Regions from separate parts of the Homo sapiens genome. Here region 1 is linked to region 2. The links come from fine-mapping of genetic effects on gene expression. A gene starts in region 2. The other region holds a variant in brackets. All regions are shown on one strand. Distances are between the middles of the regions.

Region 1 (2,909 bases), 62 kb before region 2:
TTTGCCATCTATAGAGTCAGACAACTGCAGGTTGAGCCCCAGGTCTGCCTCTTATTAGTGGCAATGTACCATAACCACCTTGAGGCTTAGTTTCCTTCTCTGTAAAATGAGGACACCACCTATGTTTAAACAACTGTCAGACAAATTTGTGATATTGTATCTAAAGTGCCTAGCACTGGACTTGGTAAATACTAGAAGATGTAGCTATCATTAGAGTCCCAGGATCTAGCTGTGCACGGCCATCTCTCTGAAAATGTATAAATAAATAGTAATTTAGAAATAAAGTTTATGAAGACCTCTAAGGCTCTTTCAATAACTACAACATCCATTTAAGCTAAGTCATCTTAGCATTCAGGGGTTGCCTACCCAATAATATTTAACCTGTCAAGGATTGTGTTACACACAGAGATGTTCTGCATGAGGAAAAAAAGAAACCTCTTACGTGCAGGACTCTAAAGGGTGCAGATCCCTAAAAGGGGTTCCTATCAACTCCATAAACAGTTGATGCACTGGCAGAGATTGACTGGGGGTCGGGGGGCAAGAACTAAGTGAGATGGAACAAAAGTGGGCAAAGTGTAGTAACTATTTAGAAACATCTAGCAACCTTCAGCACCTTTGCTAAAGATGCTGCTCTCTGCTTTGACAGTTCAAAGGCTCACATGTGTCTCTTCTCCCAGGCAGGGATTAGGGTGCAGCAAGCAAGTCAGGATATGACAAGTGCAGGATTAAATCTTACCTTTATTTAAATTTTTGATATTTTGTTCATCATGTATTTTTTGCACTGAGTTTTAATACTTTTATATAATACTTATTAACATAATATTTATGTTGATTACTGAGTTTTGGCAGCTACCCCTTAAAATTTTTTTTTTTTTTAGACGGAGTCTTGCTCTGTCGCCCAGGCTGGAGGGCAGTGGCACTATCTCAGCTCACTGCAAGCTCCGCCTCCCGGCTTCACGCCATTCTCCTGCCTCAGCCTCCCAAGTAGCTGGGACTACAGGTGCCAGCCATGATGCCTGGCTAATTTTTTGTATTTTTGTAGTAGAGACAGGGTTTCATCGTGTTAGGCAGGATGGTCTCGATCTCCTGACCTCGTGATCCACCTGCCTCGGCCTCCCAAAGGGCTGGGATTACAGGCGTGAGCAACCGCGCCTGGCCACCCCTTAAATTTTTTACCCCAGTACCTACCCTGCTCTTCTCCTCTGAATTTTAAGTTGTTGAAATATAGGAGTGATATGTTTGGTGATTCACCAGAAGGACTTACAAGACCCAATCACAAGTTATATTCATAACTAAGATTTAGTACAGCAAAGAATACAGAGAAAAAGCGCAGAAAAAAAAGATATGCATTGATGGAGTCCAGAAAGGTCCAGCAGAGACTTCTGAGGTCTTTCCTTGTCAGACACATAGGAATGCTCTCTCTCTAGCAATGAACTTCCGGTAGCTATGTGGTATGGCCCTACTTAGGAACACCACTTGGAGCTCAGAGACTGAGGTCTTTGTGGAAGTAGGGGAGTAGTTGTGACATACACTTATCTTGTGCAACCATTGCTACACAACAGGCCATGGCAATAGA[A/C]ACTCAGAACCCCAACAATAAAACCAGGGGCATATCATCAATATTGATGTGTATGCAAAGCAACTTGACACGCCAGCATGGCATGGTCCATCCCTCCAGGAATATATAACAAAGTCCGTCAATCACCAACACAAGGAACACTTGGAGGGCCACATTTCTAGGGGGTGGTGAAGGGTCAAACATAGTTCTCTTGGAGACACACAAGAAGAAAGCAACCAGACCTGCTGCATTAACTCTTTTCTCCCAAGGAGTCACGTGGCTAATCACAATATCACCTTTATTATAAGTAGTCATAATGCTACACTGTGCTCATTGAACAATGTGGCTGGGATCTATGTCAACAGACTTCCTACTATTCCCTTAAAGCCTAGACATTGGGGTGACCCACCTGTGGGAGAATCTGGGGCTGCAAAGAAGAAACTTACCTGTGCAGGTAAAAGAGGTATTGTTGCTTTGCACAACTATCAAGCCCCAAAAGTGAGGCTATAGTATGATGGCCTTCCAGATCTATCTGGGCAGGTTTAGGGCCCACTTCCCATGTGTTGTGCAGAAAGACAGTGGGAAGAGAGCATACCTGTCCCTTGAGCAGAGCATCCCCAAAAGGAGAGAGGATAGGCACAAGTTCATTCCTTTGTGTCAGCTTAACAGATAAGCTCACCTCTAAACATGGGGAGAAGTGAAGGGATATAGGAAACAGGCATATTTTCTCAAAACTGGGCATTTGAGCAGATTTTCCAGTGGAAACATGAGAACAAGTATATGAGCCATTGAAGGGAATGGCCCCCAAACCATGTTTATCCCTGAGAATAAAGTTTCACCCTACACTTCCAGTAAACGGGAAAAATGACATCTCCTCTAGCCAGAGTCCAAAATCAGTTTTCCTGTTCAAGGTGTGGCTTGAGGTGAATTCCCACGACATTAGATGCACACGCTTTTGCCCTTCCACAGAAAGCCACATTGTACTGACTACCTAGCTCTTAGGCAGTTGCATGAAGCCTCAACAACTTCAGTTGATGGCACAGAATAAGAGTCGGTGAACAGTCCCAGGGCCATATCCGACCCTCCACTTGTTTTTGTAAATAAACTTTCACTGGAACACAGCCATGCCCATTTGTTTATGAATTGTCACTAGCTGCTTTAGCATTACAACAGCAAATTTGAGTAGTTGCAACAGAGACCAAATGGCCTGCAAAGCCTAAAGCTGGTATTATCTGATCCTTTACAAAAAAAGCTTGTCAACCCCTACACAGAAGAAAAGCACTCTTGCATTATTTATGCCACCAACGCTCAAAGAATCAGATCTGTAAGTAGAGTTTCTAAATCAGCTACAAGA
Region 2 (2,909 bases):
TCCCTTGCCTATATCCATATTCATGCTCCGTGCTCCTCAGCCCCCTAGAAACTTTGCACAATAGATTCAAAACCTCTGGTTTCCTCCCTTCCTCTGTCTGAAAGAGTGAAAGAAGGAAGCCAGGGATTTCAGGGGGCAGCCAGGCAGCAGTATCACCACCCCTAGGCAATCACACCTAGTTGCAGCTTCATCGGGAACAGCTCAGCTCTGAAAACACAGACCTGGGACTCTCCCTCCCAGCCTTCTAGCTCTCGTTCCTGTGAGCAGCTTTTCAACCTCCACTTCCAGCCGCTGACAGGCCCTCCTGGCTCCACAAGGCCAGCTAACATACCCACCTTCCACAATCCCCAGCCCTGCCAGACATAACCTGCAACAGGCATTCCTGGATCAATGCAAACTCCGACTTCTGTTCCAGGAGTCTGCCTCTGTTAGAAGAATCTCACACAAGTGTGCGTGCTGTGCCATTGTAAATGCTGTATAAGGTGGCCAGGCCCAATCAGTCCCTGCAAGACACCGAACAGTAAGAACTATCTATGGAGTGTTTACTATGTGCCAAGCACCGTCCTTTGCAAGCACTATTAACCCTCAAAATACCACCACCGTGAGATTGAGACCATCATGATTCCCGTTCTACAGAAGGAAACACTGAGACTTCAGGAGGTCAGGACCTTTCCAGGGTCACAACTGCGTAACTAAGTTGCAGAGCTCAACCCAGTGGCACTTCCATCTCACACGCAGCTGTCTGATGGTCAAGAGCCCAACCAGTCCCCCGGTCGTTTCTACCGCACTAAACCGCTGTGTCAAGCTGGAGCAGCGGGCTCAGCAGTGAAAATGAAAGAACAGAAGGAGGTTACAGAGAAGAGAACGGTCACGGTAAATTCCGGAGAGGAGGCAAGGACGTACACACCGAGATACTTCCCGGTCACCGTTACTCAGCACTTTGTGGGGTTCACGTGGCTGGGGGGGCCGGGGCGTGGCGGCCCTTTTCGAGGAATCCAGCCCTGCCTGGGCGGTCCCCATCTCGAGCGTGGGCGTGTTCGATTCAGGCCCGGCGGACGCATCCCCAGGTGACCCGGGAGGGACCTTGTGTCTCTGGGGGTGACTGTCCGTCTCCCCGCCTCCCACCGTCACGCGCAGTGCTGATCCCCACTTCCAGCTGGAGTGCGAGCTGGGCTTGGGGTTACAGGAGCCGAAGCCCTGGAGCTCCGCCCCACGCTTGCGCCAGCCCCGCCCCGATCCCGGCTCGCAGGCTCCAGGGGCGGGGCGTGGCCGGGGCGCAGCGACGGGCGCGGAGGTCCGGCCGGGCGCGCGCGCCCCCGCCACACGCACGCCGGGCGTGCCAGTTTATAAAGGGAGAGAGCAAGCAGCGAGTCTTGAAGCTCTGTTTGGTGCTTTGGATCCATTTCCATCGGTCCTTACAGCCGCTCGTCAGACTCCAGCAGCCAAGATGGTGAAGCAGATCGAGAGCAAGGTACGCGCTACCGGGGAAGGCCAGGGTGCCGGCGCCGCGCGCGGCCTCTGTAACTGGGGAAGGCGGTGGCGGGAGGTGGGGAAGGCGGTGGCGGGAGGTGCGGAGGCCGCCCCTCCGCATCGCCAGGGGAAAGGGACGCGGCGTCTCGGCCTGGGACTGCGGGAAGCAGCGGCCTGGGCGCGCCCGAGGCGGTGGAGCCTGCCCTGGAGGAAGGGAGGAGAAGGACGAGGGTCCCCTGGAGGGCGGAGTGGCGGTGCCCAGCGTTTCTCGCACCCTGTTCCTCGGGGGATTGCACGCACGCGGGGAGCGTCCGGGGGATGTGAGAGCGCAGACAGCGTGAGGAGTCCCCACGCTGCGCCTCCTGCACCCTCCCGTCCGGGCAGCCCCGACTGGAGGAAGATGAGGGAATGGAAGGGGTCCGCCCTTGGCCCCCCATCTGTATCCAGATTCAGGCCCCAGGCAAGGATAGGGAGGGCCCTTGCAGAAGGCACGGGTCGGTGGCCGCCGCTGCCTTTCCGTATGTGAAGTGATCCACCCGCAGCGGGGGTAGTGATCTCCCTTTGGGAGCGGGTCTAGGCCGGAGACCCCCGCCTGCCTCCACCCATGCCCGACCCCAAAGGTGACGCGTGCTGTATCCGCACTAAGGGGGCGGATTGCGGCTGGAGACCCCCTGGCACGTGCAGGTCTGTCCAGGAGGCCCGAGGGCCCCAGGTGACCGCGAGGAAGTGAGGTCCGGGCCGCGCCCACGGGACTCCTGTGGCGCAGGGCGCGTTTCCGGCAGCAGTGGCTTTGGAATGACTGAGTCCCCAAGGTTGGGCCCGGGGGCCTCGGCTGCCCTGCCCGTCCATGATTCACCCTCAGTCGGTGGGTTTTGCTGGAGCCAGGGTTCCTCCTGGGAGCAGCCGCGCCCTGCTGCCTGCTCGCCGACCTATCGGTATCCCGATCGTTGTTTTGTCCTCTTAAAAATGCCCAAGGCGAAACAGCCTTCCCATGTTTGAAAGTTATTGCAAGCCTAAAACCTTGTAGACTGGGAAACCCAGAGCCTAACGCGCAGTGTCTAGTCCAATGTAGCCACTCCAGAAATATTTGTTAAATGCAGCGTCAGAAAAGTGAGTGGAGGAAATTGATACTGCTCGAACGGTAGAAGACCCCTCGCCAGCGCCTACCCTGCGATTACCCCTCCCTACCTGCGGGAAGCAGAGGAGGGCGGGTCCTCGCCCGCCTCGGGTGCCCTGACCTGTTTGGTGCCGGGTGGGCTTCGGAAACAGAAGTGTGTCTGCAATGTGTCCCCGATCCTTTTGTTCCTTTGATTATTATTGACTCTCAGTGTTTTTTCCTCATATGTTGATTGCCACTGTCATCTTTTATCTTCCTCTCAATCAGTTTTTTCTTAGTGGGATTCTCATTTTAGCAGCCCTCATGTGTTGAAAAGATCCTT

What was found.
Region 1: its variant is fine-mapped to the expression of TXN in whole blood (TOPMed, PIP above 0.99).

What each region holds. Positions count from the first base shown.
Region 1 is chr9:110,316,704-110,319,612 of GRCh38, reverse strand. All of the region lies in intron 4 of TXNDC8 (thioredoxin domain containing 8), which reads left to right. Among named protein-coding and RNA genes, the nearest start is that of TXNDC8, 20 kb to the left of the region's middle. The variant A/C (reference allele first, on the strand shown) is at 1,577.
Region 2 is chr9:110,254,974-110,257,882 of GRCh38, reverse strand. It overlaps TXN (thioredoxin), which reads left to right and starts at 1,376. Exons shown (of 5, transcript NM_003329.4): 1 at 1,376-1,471. The coding sequence starts at 1,448. RefSeq lists enhancers at 695-744, 785-984, 1-1,112, 1,855-2,184 and silencers at 1,125-1,364, 1,535-1,784.